Regions from separate parts of the Homo sapiens genome. Here region 1 is linked to region 2. A link means that fine-mapping ties the variant in region 2 to the expression of a gene that starts in the linked region. Tissue or cell type: minor salivary gland. Region 2 holds a variant in brackets; the other region holds the start of a gene. All regions are shown on one strand. Distances are from middle to middle.

What was found. PIP is the estimated chance that this variant, and not a neighbour inherited with it, causes the effect.
Region 1: DANCR starts here. The variant in region 2 is fine-mapped to the expression of DANCR in minor salivary gland (GTEx, PIP above 0.99).

The regions. Positions count from the first base shown.
Region 1 is chr4:52,707,756-52,715,863 of GRCh38, reverse strand. DANCR (differentiation antagonizing non-protein coding RNA) reads right to left here and starts at 3,470. Exons shown (of 5, transcript NR_145129.1): 1 at 3,337-3,470; 2 at 2,905-3,040; 3 at 2,322-2,370; 4 at 1,626-1,665. It overlaps MIR4449 (microRNA 4449), which reads right to left and starts at 3,182; the gene lies at 3,117-3,182. It overlaps SNORA26 (small nucleolar RNA, H/ACA box 26), which reads right to left and starts at 2,615; the gene lies at 2,494-2,615. RefSeq lists an enhancer at 2,787-2,836 and silencers at 3,087-3,656, 2,831-3,664.
Region 2 is chr4:53,696,275-53,704,366 of GRCh38, reverse strand. All of the region lies in intron 1 of LOC100506444 (a long non-coding RNA gene), which reads right to left. Among named protein-coding and RNA genes, the nearest start is that of LNX1-AS2, 110 kb to the right of the region's middle. RefSeq lists an enhancer at 1,697-1,816. The variant C/T (reference allele first, on the strand shown) is at 3,132.

The DNA.
Region 1 (8,108 bases), 990 kb after region 2:
CTTAGAAGGGGACTGTAAGCCACTTACCTACAAAAGGTCAAGCACCTGACTAGACCCTCTGTAATATGGTGGGAACTAAGGTGGACTTTACAGAATGGAGAGAAGCAGAGGCAGTTAGGTAAGTTTGCATGCGATGCGCAATGTAGTTCTGATGCTACAGGGCCATTACAGGGTGCTAAAGAAAATCAAGAACACATAGAAGGGCTGATGGTGGTCAGAGAAAAGTTAGGTTAAGAGCAGTAAAGTATAAGGCAATAGGGAGCATTCCAATTAAATTAAAACATTCAGAGCCCCGCAGGCCAGAGCACGTTGCCATTTTACCATAGTTTGAAAATAACCAACTTTCCACTACTACAGACATAAAGTCCTCCGCTCCTTAAGGGCACTTCTCTACAGCTTCACTGCTTCTCCAAACCTTTAAACACAACTATCCTCAGGGCCTTTGCACTAGTTTTCCCTCTGCCTAGAATGCTCTTCCCTCAACTATAGATAAGGCCATGGCATCTCCCTCAGCTCTTTCATGTTGAGTGAGGCCTCCCTTGCCGGCCATGTTAAGTCATCTCCCTTTCCTTACCCCCTTAGCAATTATAGCCAGCTAACACATTAGTTGAATGTATTTTTTGTACTAGTCTGTTCTCACATTGCTATAAAGAACTGAGACTGGGTAATTTATAAAGAAAAGGTTTGTCTCATGGTTCAGCAGGCTGCACAGGGAGCATGGCTGCTGAGGCTTCAGGAAACTTACAATCATGGGGTATGTCTAACAGGAAGCACATGGCCAGAGTAGGAGGAAGGGGAGGTGCCACACTTTTAATCTAAACTCTGCCATTCTTCTGCCTCTGCCTTGAGATAACATGTGCACAATTGCATAACCTTTATTTTTATTAATTTTTCTTTTCAGGCTGGAGCACGGTGACAAGATCATGGCTCAGTGCAGTCTCAACCTCTTGGGCTCAAGCAATCCTTCTGCCTCATTTTTTGTAGAGACGAGGTCTTACTATGTTGCCCAAGATAGTCTTAACTCCTGACCTCAAGTGATCCCCCTGCCTTGGCCTTCCCAAGTGCTGGGATTACAGGCATGAGCCACTGCCCCAGCCACACTACACATCTAAACAACCAGATCTCATGAGAACTCACTATCACAAGGAACAGCAAGAGGGAAATCCACCCTTTTCATCCAATCACGTCCCACCAGGCCCCTCCTCTAACATCGGGATTACAATTCAACATTATCCAAACTTGTGAGCAATTACCTAAATTTATGAGGCTAGACTTTACAATATGGAACATAAAAGTTTAGATAAAAAGGTAAGAACAATGCTATGAATTAAGAATGACTCCAAGATAAATATTAATACTTGCTACATAGACACACACAAAAAAACAGAATATGCTGACAGATACTCCTTCTGTGCCAAATTTTGTGAACCTTCTTAGGCTCAATGCAATGAAATAATATGAAGAGTTTATATTCTTAACAGCTCGACTGTGGTCCTTTCCTAGTTTGGTTGAAATAATTCTTAACTGTTACACCAGGACACCAAATCTCAAGAGACAAGTGACTTTCCAGAAGTCACATTGCCTAAAAGTTATACATGTGAAGCCTCTCATTCAGAGATACTCACAGGTGATGAAACTTGAGTTATCACTAATCCATTTCTTTACCTGTGAAATGGGAGAATAGAATCTGTAAGGTTAGCCGAGAGAAAAGACAAGAGACCCAAGGTCAGGCCAAGTAAGTTTATTAACCTGCCAGGCTTCTCCACCAGTCGGAGGTGGCAGCCCTGAGCTTACAAAATGAGGGGTTTATATGGGGGAGAGAGACCCTGGGGTTGTTAGTCAATTAACTTTACCACATATAATCTCATGACCGGCTTACAATATATTATCTTGTGAAAATAGGAATTTACAAGGGGGTGTAATCCACGTTTCTCATGACCTCCCCCGTGCCACCCAGAGGGCTTCGGTGTAGCAAGTCTGGTGACCTTGCTATAGCGCCTAGATAACGGTTCAGGAATGCAGCTGCAGAGTATTCAGGGTAAGGGTCAGCTGCATTGAGTTAGCGGGGGCGGAGTGGTCCTGGGGCAGCCTGTCCCTAACAGAATCCACCTCCGAGTTGTGACAATTAAATGAAAAGGTTGAAAAGGTGAACATGAAGCACCTGCTACACTGCCCTGTTGCCACCAGCATTGTCACTGCTCTAGCTCCTGTGGCACTGCACGGACACGTGGTTGCTACAAGTTAGTACGCATATTTGGCCTTATTAGAGGCACTTTCCTATTGTAACTGAAGGGATAGTTGGCTTAAGTCAATTGAAATACCAGCAACAGGACATTCCAGCTTCAATGGCTTGTGCCTGTAGTTGTCAACCTATAGAAAGAAAAGTTTTAAAATGACGTTTTAACCAAAGAAAACTGAAATGTATTGCTTGTTCTATAAACTGTAAAGAAAATCACAAAGGCGCTCAAGTTGTAACGAAACTTTTTCTGGTTCAGTTGTGACTCCAGACAGGATCCAAAGAGGAGCTTTCCAGTCTCTTCTCTGGGTTTTATGGAGACTTACTTTACCCTTCTGTGTTAGCCTCTTAAAGCACTGGGTCAACCTTAAAAGGGCACAGGAAAGGGTGCTTTGTGATTTTTTTTCTTTGATTTTTACAGGGTTCACTACTATTTTCCGCGTTGCTCTCAATACCTCGTGGATCTCTGCTTCTCTAAGTCTGAAACCACACTAGAAACACAGCTGTTTTGTTTGGTGAGCCCCTACATGGATGTTTCCTTCCAGTTAAGGGGAGCCGGATTCGGACCTTGGCGACAAACAGACGCCGGGGAACCCTCCGGTCCCACTGGCCACGTGCTCCAGGCTGACTCATTCCTTCCCCCACCCCGCTCAAGGCTAGGAACATACCTGCGCTAAGAACTGAGGCAGCTGCACTTCCGCAGACGTAAGAGACGAACTCCTGGAGCTCAAGGTCGGCTGGGGTTGGGTTCCTGTCCCGCACGCGTGGCCCGCCCGAAACCCGCTACATAGTGGCGCGTCAGCCCTGGGGAAGCAAAGCGCAAAATTGTTACGGTGCCCAGACCTGCGCCGGGAACCTCCGGCTGTTCCGCTGGGCGCGGCGCCTGTGCCTCGCGCAGCCCCGGGACGGGCACCGCCGCCCGCCCCCCGGGCCGCCGAGGGCTGCTCTACCCCTCCGTTCTGGCCGCCGGGAGCAGAGGAGCTCGAGGCGGGCAAAGCTCGTGGGGACACCGGGCGAGCCCAGCCCCTGATCGGACCCACGGGCCGGCCGGGCGCCCTCCCCGCGGGAGACCGAAAGCCGAAGACTGGAGATGCACTCACCGCGCAACTCCAGCTGACAAAGAGGCCTGCGACCTGCGACGGGCGCACAAACCAGAGAGGCGGCGCGGGGCGGGGAGGGAAGCAGGAGGGTCGCGAGGCCCGCAGCCAATCCCGGGAAGACTCTGGGCAAGGGCGGGGCGCGCAGCCGATCCCCTGGAGAGGTCGGGTAGCTCAGCCAATCCCGGGAAGATCCTGAGCGGGGCGGGGTGGAGGGCCGCGGCACGCACAGCCAATCCCGGATGGGGCGGGACGGGCCCGGCCATTGGCTGTCGGTGTCCGGGGCCGGCCTAGGTGTGGCTCATGCAGTAGCACGGGGATAAGCCATGTCTGCGCGCGGAGCATCCTTCTCTGAATTAGATTTTTCAGGCTACCTACCAATCCCCGGCGTTGGTGATTTTGGTGCTCTTGGGCCCTAGACCCTTCCTCGGGTGCCCTTCTGGAGAGGGCATCGAGGTTACTCCAGGGTTGGCCTAAGGCCCTGGGATTCCCTTTCTTAAAGCCACACTAATCCGGTGTGTGTTCATCATCTGTGTCCGCCTAAACCGTAAGCTTAAAGAGAAGCCACGACCATGTCTTGTTCAACAAGCTCACTCCCGTGGCCTCTCCTAAAGCTAGAAGGACTACCTCCTTTCCTCATGCTCCCTCTTTATTCATTTACAGAGTCCAATAAGTAGACCATAATCAGCTGGAGGGTAGGAGTTGGGGAGGTTGAGAAGGCAACCATAGCAATCTCAAGGTAACAGGCTCAAACTTGGCAAACAAATAAGTAGAAGAAAATTGGAGTATATGCTAAAAGGAGAACTTCTATTGCTGTTTCACGTACTTACCATCTGCTAACAAATCTAATCCTCAAAATATATTTAATCATCTCCAAATTATAGATGGGGAAATAATTATGTTATGTAACTTGCCCAAAGTCACAGAGCAGCTAGCCAGTGGTAGATCCAGGATTTGAACTCAAGCAGCCTGAAGGCAGAGCCCCTCAAACAACATGCTACCTAGCCTTTCCCCAGGTGTTGGGGGTGGAGCAGGAAGGGAAACCAAAAAATAGCCTACACTTGGTTAACAGATCAAGACAGGCAGCTCTGGTGGGGTGTGGCTTTGTAAACAGAAAGAACAACTCGTCCAGAGCCCCAAGATAAAACAGGAAAGGGCTTTACCTGTTTAAGGACTCCCAGAAATGGAACTTAAGGAGCAGAGTGGCCTGAGATGAGAATGGCTTGGGGCCAGACCATGCAGGAAACCCTGGAAGAGTTTTTTTGTTTTGTTTTGTTTTTGAGATGGAGTCTCGCTCTGTTGCCCAGACTGGAGTATAGTGGCACGATCTTGGCTCACTGCAGCCTCCACCTCCCAAGTTCAAACTATTCTCGTCTCGGCCTCCCGGGTAGTTGGGATTACAGGCATGCACCACCATGCCTGGTTAATTTTTGTATTTGTGAAAGAGTTTATACTTTGTGCTAAGAATGATGGAAAGCTGTTCAAGTGTTTTGTTTGTTTGTTGTGTGTGTGTGTGTGTGTTTTAACAGGGGAATGATAGGATCTGATGTAGGGTGTGGTTTCGGGTGTGATTAAGGTGGTTTTGGTGGGAAGAAGAAGTTGAGTAAAATTTACCAATAAACCCTAGCACCTAGTCATCATCTTGCAGATATTCATAGGATCTTGTTGAAATTGGAGAGTGAATACCAGTTTGTTGTCCCTTCACCTTTCTCAAGAGTCTTCCAAACATATCTCTAGTTGGAATCTGTTCTTTTTATAGTCCCTTTGGATAGCTGAGAGATATTACCTTTCCTTTAACTATGGCAATGCATGTGGTCAGGCAACATGGGAAAATATAGGAAAAGAGAAGTAAATCTCCTTAGTAAAGAGACTAATGCAGGAATTCAGCAGCAACCTAGCAGGGGCTGGGGGTAGTTGTGCAGAATGTCTTCCCTCCTCCCCAAATCAGGGGATAAAAATGGGAAGGAATTATGAAAGAATTATATTTGTGTTTGATTTAAGAGAAATTCACCTTAATCTGAAGGCTTCACATTTCTGGCCAAATACCTCAATTCAATGAACTTACAAACAGTTCATTCGAAATAGTAAAACTGTTCACTGGGCTTAGAGGAGAAATGTCTATTAAATACAGAGACAATAGAACAAAATAAACTGATTTATAATTGCTTTTGAGTTAGGTTCAAGATAATATATATTTGGTACTAAAAATCCTTATAATGCAGTTTAAAGAGAATTGTTTCAATTGGGTTTATTATTAGGCCTAATTTTTTTAGAGAAATTAGTATGTCTAATCAATCCTTCTTTCTTTCTTTTCTTTCTTTCTTTTCTTTCCCTCCCTCCCTCCCTTCCTTCCTTTTCTTTTCTCTCTCTCTCTCTTTCTTGCTCTCTCTCTCGTCTCTCTCCCTCTCCCTTTCTTTTCCCTTTGACAGGGTCTTACTCTATCACTCAGGCTAGAGTGCAGTGGCACAATCATAGCTCACGGGTCAGGCTCCAACTCCTAGGCTTAAGTGATCCTCCCACCTCAGCCTCCCAAAGCATTGGCATTACAGATGTGAGCCACCACGACTGGCCAATCTGTCCAATTTGAGGGAGTTCAGTCTCTCCAAATTTAATCTGTCGGAAGTTGAATAAAGGGACCTAGAAGAATACCCACCAGCCCTCCAGATATTCTCAGCTGGATTTCCCAGAGACACCACAAAATCACTCTTTTGGCCCAGAATTTATTCTCTTCTTCCACCCCTCCACTTCCTTTTTGTGTCCTCTGTCTTGAAGAATAACAATTCCTTAGCCCAGCTGTCCAGGACTTAGCGCAAATGCTTTCCTTTCTCAGTCTCCTCCTCCATTTCTCAGCCTCCTACTTCCTCATCTTCTTCCATGCGGGCAGTTCTTCCTATTGACCACCATGACTCTGCCTCTTCTTTCCAGCCCTTGCTTGTACTTTAGTTCTAGCTCCATCATTTACTTTCAGCATCATCCACTGCAGTAGCCTCCACCTTCATTCAGCTTCCCTGTCTCCAGTGTTCCCTTCCCCATGAATTCTTCCACACTGCTGTCATCTCCATTGGAAATTGTTAAATGGCTCTTTACTGCCACCAGAAACAAAACCAACCTCCACCTATCTACTTCCTCCTCTCACTTCCCACATACCTATTATAATCCAACCATGCTGAACTAATGGCAGTCCCCTGAATGCTGTCCAGCACTCTCCCATACAACTTTCTGCAGTGATGGAAATGTTCTATATCTCTGCTGTCCAGTATGGTAGCCACATGTGGCTATTGAGTACTTGAAATGTGACTAGCACAACACAAGACCTGGATCTTAAACTTCATTTACTTTTAACTAATTTAAATTTAAATAGTCATGCTGGGCCTGGTGGTGGTATGCCTATAATCCCAGCTACGTGGGCAGAAGTCTGAGGTGGGAGGATCCCTTGAGGCCAGAAGTTTGAGGTTGCAGTGTGCTCAGACAGTGCCTGTGAATAGCCACTGCACTCCAGCTGCCGCAATATAGCAAGACTCCATCTCTACAGAAAAAAAAAATTAGCCAAGCATGGCAGAACAGGCCTGTAGTCCCAGCTACTCAGGCAGCTGAGGCAAGAGGATCACTTGAGCTCAGGATTCAAGGCTGCAGTGACCTATGATGGCACTACAGCACTCCAGACTGGGTGACAGAGCAAGACATCTAAGATAAATAAATAGATAAAAATAAAAGTCACATGTGGCTGGTAGATACTACATTGAACTGCACAATAGTTTACATCCTTGCTTCTCAAAGCGTGGTCCATCAGCCTGGGCATTCCCTGGAAACTTGTAGTAATGCATAATCTCAGGCCTCATCCCAGATCTGCTGATTCGGAATCTATATTTCAACAAGATCCCCAGGTGATCTGTATGCACATTAAAGTTTCAAGAGCCACAGCTCTAATAAGCTCTTGCTTCCTTGCCTTTGCATGTGGTGTTCTCTTCGTCTGGGCTGCCTGTCACCTGTTCTTTTTTCCTTAACTCCTACTTATCCCTAGACCTATCTACACTCACAACCTGCTGTTAATATGGTAATCCAGAGGGTAGGGGATGAAGGATATGGGGGAGAGGAGTGAGAGGGAAGGAGAAAATATCTATGATAAAACCACTTGTATCTTGTAATCTTAAATAACTATATGTATGTAGCTATATAATATAAATACATACATACTATGTATATATTTATAGTATAGTATGTATATATGTATAGTATTCTATGTATATACATGTACAAGTATAGTTTGTGTGTGTGTGTGTGTGTGTGTGTGTGAAAATATGGTTACTACAATGTCAGTGGTATTTCTCTCAAGGTGATGGGATTTCATGTGTCTTACTTTCTAAAAATATTTTTGAGGTATCATTCAAATTCTTTACAAAGAGCATGTATTACTGATATAATAATTTTCATTACAGAAAACAAAATAAGGGCTATATTAGCCTTTTGTAAGTAACTTCAAGAACACGATATCGGAATAAAGTATAGCGTTTTACAAAAAAGGAGAGCCCCCACCTTCCACAGTTAGAGACACTCCCTTGTCTACAACACAAGAGCGGGCAGTAGGCATGGCATAGGCAACAACCAACCTGAAAGCAGAAGAATGATCTCTTGTGATGCCTCCACTGCTGTCTCCTGTGTCTACCCTCCCACCCCCACAGCAGACATGGTCCTAGCACCACGACAATCACCTCTTCTCCATCCCCTGCCTGACTCCTAGCTAGGGCTGGAGTCTGAAAAGGGGCCTTAGGTGTACA
Region 2 (8,092 bases):
CTAGACAGTGGGGGATGGGGGGCAGCAATTAACTATTTATCGGGTACTATGCTCACTACATAAGTGACAGGATCCATACTCCAAACCTCAGCCTCATGCAATATTCCCACATAACGAACCTGCACATATACCTCTGGTATCTCAAATAAAAGTTGAAATTAAAAAAAAATTAAATTAAAGAAGAACTTCTAGTTCCAGGATGGCCATCTGGTTTGAGGATCTTCAGCCCAGAGAAACACAAAGCCCTCTCACAACCGAAGTACAACTGTTGATACAGTAGGAGCTAGATATTCACATAGTATACATCATACGTTTTTGTTTTTTTGGTCTGGTATAGACTCAAATAGCAACTTGCCCAGAAAACATAGTCCTTAAATACTGATTGGATAATTAATTGATCAGTGATATGTTTAATGACATTGACCATGGATACAATAGCATGGCCTTTGAATAGAAGAAAGACCATGGAAAGGAGGAGTTGTGAGTCCTGCCCTCTTTTTCCCCGGACATGCAATGCAGTGGTTGAGACACTGAATACAAGTCTGACTGTTCCACCTCTGTCACATCTTGTACAAGTTCTATAATTTTTCCAAACTGCAGTTTGTCCTTCTGTCAGCTGGAGATAATTATTGTACCAATCTCATAAGACTGTTCAATATGAAATAAAATAAAACACATAAAATGCTTAGCCTTGTATCAGGCACATAGTAAGTATTTGACATAAATATGTTTTTATTGCTGGTGTTGTTTTTGGTTTTATTTTATGAGTTAAGATCCTGGAGAAGTGCAGGAGGTCAAAGGGAAAAGATGATAATAGCTTCCAGGGACCCATGTTGAGTGGCAAGGCCCAGAGTGACCCCGTGCTGTGGCACGGATCTGTGATTCTCCAGATGTTCACGAAGGAATGGTTTTCTGCAGAATGAAGGAGCTGAAGTGCAAATGGGGTCAGGGAATTTTATAGGAGCTTGGAGGAAGAGTCAAGAGTAGAGTGTTCAGTCGTTACATCAAGTGAAAATAGAGACGCTGACGAAGAACTCGTGCCCTTACCTGGAGAGCTTGCCCTTAGGAAAGAGAGAGAAAGAGACAGAGAGAGAGAGAGACGCAGACACACACAGAAAGAGACACAGACACAGAGAGAAAGCACAGTCCCTCTTGTGCTGGCTGCTGACCAAACCCCACTGTGCCTCAGCCCAGCTTCCTGCCTCCCTGGGGAGGGGAAACGTGTCCCTTGGCCAGTAGCCATCAAAGGTCTTACAGGGATGCTTTGTGTCTGACCTGCCAGGGAAGGCAAACGAGCCCCACTTTTTGTTCCCCAGGGAACTGGCCTCTTAGGGACACTGGCGAGAGTTGTCTGCACATGTGGTCAATGGAGGGAAGCAGCTAGCACACAAGGGGACCAAAAGGGATGGCGGCGAAACTGCACAGTGGTAGGGGGAAGCCCGCGGGCTATTTTAGGCCAGGCTCAGAACTGGAGTCAATGGAGGTTTTGTTTATGTAACATCTGCAGAGGGCCCTTCAAAGCAAATAACCCTGGGTCTCCAGGCCAGGGCTGCAGCGAGCAGGGGTGGGGCCGCGAGCTTCCTGTTGTTCTTGGCACGGCTGCCCAGCTGTCTGCGTGGCTCCTCTCAGAGCCATTTGCCGCCTCACTGCTTGCTCCCTACGATCATCTTCACAGCTCTTTTCCTAGGGGCGGGTAAACAAAGTACAAGAAGCAGTGCAGGCAGAGCCGTTCCTCGGAGAGGTGACTCGAGCACTGTGCCCCAGAAAGTTGCCCTCCTGACCCCAGGGCTCCCCGGCCGCCCTGCAGCCTCAGGAGACCCCAGGGCGTCCTTTCTGCACATCCCCTTAGCTGAGCGGCTTTGCTGTCAGTTTCAGTATGGTAGGGAAAGGGGCCTGGCTCTCAGGTCTGCCCCATACAGGTCTGAACCCAGAGCTGCATTTGGCAGTTGCTTACTCTTGTGCTAAGTGCTCAATCCCCATTATTTATTACAGGCAGAAACATACATATATACGAGATAAATAATGTATGTTAATTTCCTTTCTACCAGGCCTGTTTGAAGGCATGAACACTATATTGTTATCTTTTTGAAACACAGATTCCATTGGGAAAGATGGGGATAAGACGGCCTTTTTCAAGTTTAGGAAAATTTATATGCACAAGAATGTAGAAATCTGAAACTGACAGTTTGATAAACTTGTTCACCTATGTATCCACCCACGTAACTACTACCCTGATCAAGATACAGAATATATCCATCGCCCTTATGTGAAAAGCTCCTTTGTGTCTCTTTCTGGTTAATAACCTGCTTACCCCTACTTATATTAGTCTGCCAGGGTGCCAGAACAAAATACCAAAGGCTAAGCGATTTCAATAACAAAAATCGGTTTCTCACAGTTTTGGAAGCTGGATGTCCAAGATCAGGGGACTAGAATGGCTGGTAAGGGCCCTCTTCCTGGCTTGCAGATGGCTGCTTTCTCAGTGTATGCTCACATGGCCACTACTTTGTGCACCTGGAGCAAGCGCTCTGGTGTCTATTCTTAAAAGGACATAAATTCTATCAGATCAGGGCCCTAACCTTATGACCTCATTTAACCTTAATTACTTCCAGAAAGGACTCATCTCCAAATATATTCACATTGGGGCTCAAGGCCTCAGCATACGAATATGGAGGGGACATGATTCGGTCCATAGCACTACCACGGTGCCTTCCTCCCCCAGTGATATGGTTTGGCTGTGTCCCCATCCAAATCTCAACTTGAATTGTATCTCCCAGAATTCCCATGTGTCACGGGAGGGACCCAGGGGGAGGTAATTGAATCATGGGGGCTGGTCTTTCCCATGCTAGTCTCGTAATAGTGAGTAAGTCACATGAGATCTGATGGGTTTTTCAGGGGTTTCCGCCTTTGCTTCTTCCTCATTTTTCTCTTGCCACTGCCATGTGAGAAGTGCCTTTTGCCTCCCGCCATGTTTCTGAGGCCTCCCCAGCCATGTGGAACTGTAAGTCCAATTAAACCTCTTTTCCTTCCCAGTGTCAGGTATGTCTTTATCAGCAGCGTGAAAACAGACTAATACAGTCAGTTGGTATCAGTACAGTGGGGCGTTGCTGAAAAGATAGCTGAAAATGTGGAAG[C/T]GACTTTGGAACTGGGTAACAGGCAGAGTTTGGAACAGTTTGGAGGCCTCAGAAGAAGACAGGAAAACGTGGGAAAGTTTGGAACTTCCTAGAGACCTGTTGAATGGCTTTGACAAAAATGCTAATAGTGATATGAACAATAAGGTCCAGGCTGAGGTGGTCTCAGATGGAGATGGGGAACTTGTTGGGAACTGGAGCAAAGGCGACTTTTGCTATGTTTTAGCAAAAAGACTGGCGGCATTTTGCCCCTGCCCTAGAGATGTGTGGAACTTTGAGCTTGGGAGAGATGATTTAGGGTGTCTGGTAGAAGAAACTTCTAAGCAGCAAAGCATTCAAGAGGTGACTTGGGTGCTGTTAAAAGCATTCCATTTTAAAAGGAAAACAGAGCGTAAAAGTTCAGAACGTTTGCAGCCTGATGATGCAGTAGAATAGAAAAACCCATTTTTTGAGGAGAAATTCAAGCCAGCTGCAGAAATTTGCATAAGTAGCAAGGAGTCTAATATTAATCCCCAAGACTGTGGGGAAAATGTCTCCAGGCCAAGTCAGAGACCTTCACAGCAGCCCCTCTCATCGCAGGCCTGGAGTCCCAGGAGGAAAAAGTGGTCTCATGGGCCAGTCCCAGGGTCCCTGTGCTGTGTGCAGCCTAGAAACTTGGTGCCCTGTGTCCCAGCTGCTCCAGATGTGGCTGAAAGGGGCCAACATAGAGCTTGGGCTGTGGCTTCAGAGTGTGCAAACCCCAAGCCTTGGCAGCTTCCACATGGTGTTGAGCCTGCAGTCCACAGAAGTCAAGAATTGAGGTTCGGGAATCTCCACTTAGATTTCAGAAGATGTATAGAAATGCCTGGATGCCCAGACAAAAGTTTGCTGCAGGAGCAGGGCCTCATGAAGAACCTCTCCTAGGGAAGTGCAGAAGGGAAATGTGGGGTCGGAGCCCCCACACAGAGTCCCTACTGGGGCACCGCCTAGTGGAGCTGTGAGAAGACGGCCACCGTCATCCAGACCCCAGAATGGTAGATCCACAGGCAGCTTGCACTGTGCACCTGGAAAAGCCACGGACACACAATGCCTGCCCGTGAAAGCAGTGGGAGAGAGGCTGTATCCTGCAAAGCCACAGGGGTGGAGCTGCCCAAGACCATGGGAACCCACCTTTTGAATTAGCATGACCTGGATGTGAGACCTGGAGTCAAAGGAGATCATTTTGGAGCTTTAAAATTTGACGACCTCACTGGATTTCGGACTTGCATGGGCCCTGTAACCCCTTTGTTTTGGCCAATTTCTCCCATTTGGAATGAATGTATTTACCCAATACCTGTTTTTCCATTGTATCTAGGAAGTAACTAGCTTGCTTTTGATTTTGCCAGCTCATATGTGGAGGAACTTCCCTTGTCTCAGAGGAGACTTTGGACTATGGACTTTTGGGTTAAAGCTGAAATGAGTTAAGACTTTGGGGGACTGTTGGGAAGGCATAATTGGTTTTGAAATGTGAGAACATGAGATTTGGAGGGGCCAGGGGTGGAATGATATAGTCTGGCTGTGTCCCCATCCAAATCCCAACTTGAATTCTATCTCCCAGAATTCCCATGTGTTGTGGGAGGGACCCAGGGGGAAGAAATTGAATCATGGGAGCCAGTCTTTCCCGTGCTATTCTCATGATAGTGAATAAGTCTCACAAGATCTGACAGGTTTATCAGGGGTTTCTGCTTTTGCTTCTTCCTCATTTTTCTCCTACTGACACCATGTAAGAAGTGCCTTTTGCCTCCCATCATGATTCTGAGGCCTCCTCAGCCATGTGGAACTGTAAGTCCAATTAAACCTCTTTTTCTTCCCTGTCTTGGGTATGTCTTTACCAGCAGCGTGAAAACAGACTCATGAAAACAGACTAATAGGCCCAGCCCCTAGCTGGTAACTACTGCTTCACTTAATGTCTCAAAACTAGAAGAAACCCAAATGTCCACCAACAGAGAAATGTACAAGTAAACTTTGATCTACTCATACAATGGAACATTTTGCCTCAATGAGAAATAATGAAGCCAGGTGCGGTGGCTCACATCTGTAATCCTAGCACTTTGGGAGGCCAAGACGAGCAGATCACCTGAGGTCAGGAGTTCAAGACCAGCCTGGCCAACATGGTGAAACCCTGTCTCTACTAAAAATACAAAAATTAGCCGGGTGTTGTGGCACACATACCTGTAGTCCCAGCTCTTCAGGAAGCTGAGGTACAAGAATTGCTTGAGCCTGGGAGGCGGAGCTTGCAGTGAGCCAAGATCACACCGCTGCACTGCAGCCTGGGTGACAGAGAGAAACTCTGTCTCAAAAAAAAAAAAAAAAAAAAAAAAGGAATGAGCTCATGGTATATAGGATCCATTTTCGGCTTTCCTCTGAGCAGGTTATGAATAAAACACAACAAAGGCCTTTGGATTTTGAGAATTCTGATCTCTGCCTGGACTGCCCCAAAAGTTTGTTTATTCCAACCAAGTTTAATTATTCCCTCGTGTTTGTAGCAAAAATTTCAAGTTTTTAGGGACCTTGCCTAACCACTGATAATCTTCCCACTCTACCAGGATAGACAATGGAGACCCCAGCTCATATCACAAGTGTCACCAGTAGAGCCTTTTAATATGAAACGTATCTTTCTTCGGGGAGAACTTGACTTCAAATTTGGATTTTCTGTTATTTTTATTAAAGAACAATAGGGTAGCCAGTTGGCTGAGGAAAAAGCAGTTGTTTCAAATTAGGTGTAATTTTGAATTCAGCCAATATTGGCTTAACAGATTTTACCCAAGATGTTTTTCTATATATAGGATGTTTGACTTAGTCTTAGAAAGACTGTGGTGGGTTTCCATGTCCATTGTTATTTGGCCTTATGCTTTGCAAAGTATCAAAGTAAGTTTGTTTTTAACAGTTATGCTGCCAGTTTGAGTTAAACTGTTTAACAAGGGAGAGTTTTTACTAAAAAAAATCGTCTCTTTGGAGGCAGGGAGTCTTAATTCACTCAAATAATAGATTTTAAAGTGAAAGTAGCTAGAACTTGAGATCTGAGATAACAAGCCAACTGCTTGCACCTCCACAAAATGTGACATTTCCCAGGCAGTGAATTGGGCTTTCTATTCCCAAAGGTTTCATTCTGGTTTCTATGAGTCTGATTTTTATCCAAAGCCCCTGCTTGCCTGGTGTTCCAATTTTTTTTTATTTTTATTTTTGTACCAGAGGGATATTAAAATGGCCAGAAGCAGAGAAGCCAGTGAGATGTAGAGGAAGAGTTTACATGTTAACATCAGAGAGACCTGGGTTCAAGTACTATATTCTCCTCACCTGGGTTTGTGACCAGGAACAAGTTACTTTTCTGAGCCTCAGTTTCACCGTTCATAAAATAGGCATGACCATGCTTACCTCCAAACATTTGATAAGAATTCACTGTGAAGTACCTGGCATATATGAATAGTAGCTCATTCATTCAACAAATGTTTATTGAGTACCTACCATGTGCCAGATGCTTTAGCAGTGGGGACACAGTGGTAAACAAATGATATCTGCCCTCTTGGATATCATAGTTGTTCAATAAATAGCTGCCATTCCAATAGGTATATGAAAAGGTACTCAACATCACTAGTCATCAGGAAAATACAATCAAAACTACAATGAGATATCATCTCACAGCTGTTAGGATGTCTATTATCCAAAAAAAAAAACCAAAAAAAAAAAAAAACAAAGATAAGTGTTGGCTAAGCTGTTGAGAAACTGAAATCCTGGCACACTGTGGTAGGAATGTAAAATGGTGCAATTGCTATAGAAAACAGTATGGAGGTTCATGAAAAAATCAAAATAGAAGTACTATATGATCTAACAATCCCATTTGGGGGATTTATCCAAAAGATTTGAAATCAGGACCTCAAAGAGATATCTGCACTCCCATGTTAATTTCAGCATTATTCACAGTAGCCAAGAGGTGGAAACCACCCAAATGTTCATTGCTGGATGAATGGATAAAGAGAATGTGGCATACTGCACATGCAGTAGAATATTATTCAGCTTTAAAAAAATTCTACCATATGCTACAACATGGAAGAGCCTGGAGGACATTATGCTAAGTGAAATAAGCCAGTCACAAAAGGACAAACACTGCATAATTCCACTTACATAAGTATCTAAATGTATCTAAAGTCAAACACATAGAAACAGAGTAGAATGGTGGTTGCTAGGGGATGGGGCAGTATAAATGGAAAGGTATTATTCAAGGGTTATAAAGTTTTAGTTATTCAAGATGATTAAGTTCTGGAGATCTGCTGTACAAAATTGTGACTCTGGTTAACAACACTGTATTGTACACTTAAAAATTTGTTAAGAGATAGATCTCCTGTTACGTGTTCTTTTTTTTAAAAAAAAGAAAGAAATATTATAAATCTAGATCATGGTAATCTAGATCATGTTTGTGTAACTCTGTAACCTTACTAAAATGGATTATACACTTAAAAGGGTGAGTTTTATTATATATAAATTACATCTCAATAAAGCAGTTTTGCAAAAATAGTTGCCATTAATTTAACAGTCCCATTTCTTTCAAGCCTTTGTTCAATATCACCACTCCCCTCCCAGCTTCACTTTTTTCATAGCCACATTTTGATATATTATAGTTTATTTATCTTATGTAATCAATTCTAAGTTTCACATCTTAACATACATAAAATCAAGATGCATTCTATAATGGCAGCAATTTATTAGCAGCATTCTTTCTTTCTTTAGTGGCACATAGACTAGCAGTGCATCTTGTATCACTGCCATCTTAGAGACAATAAACTGTGCTGTTGTGTTATTGTTTCTTGCCTTTTTTCCCCTCTAGAATGTTTGCTTCACACTGGTAGGGATCTTTATTTTGTTCACTGCTGTATTCTAAATGTCTAGAATAGTGCCTAGAATGTCTAGAATAGTGCCTAGAATGTCACATATCATTGATAAACATTTGT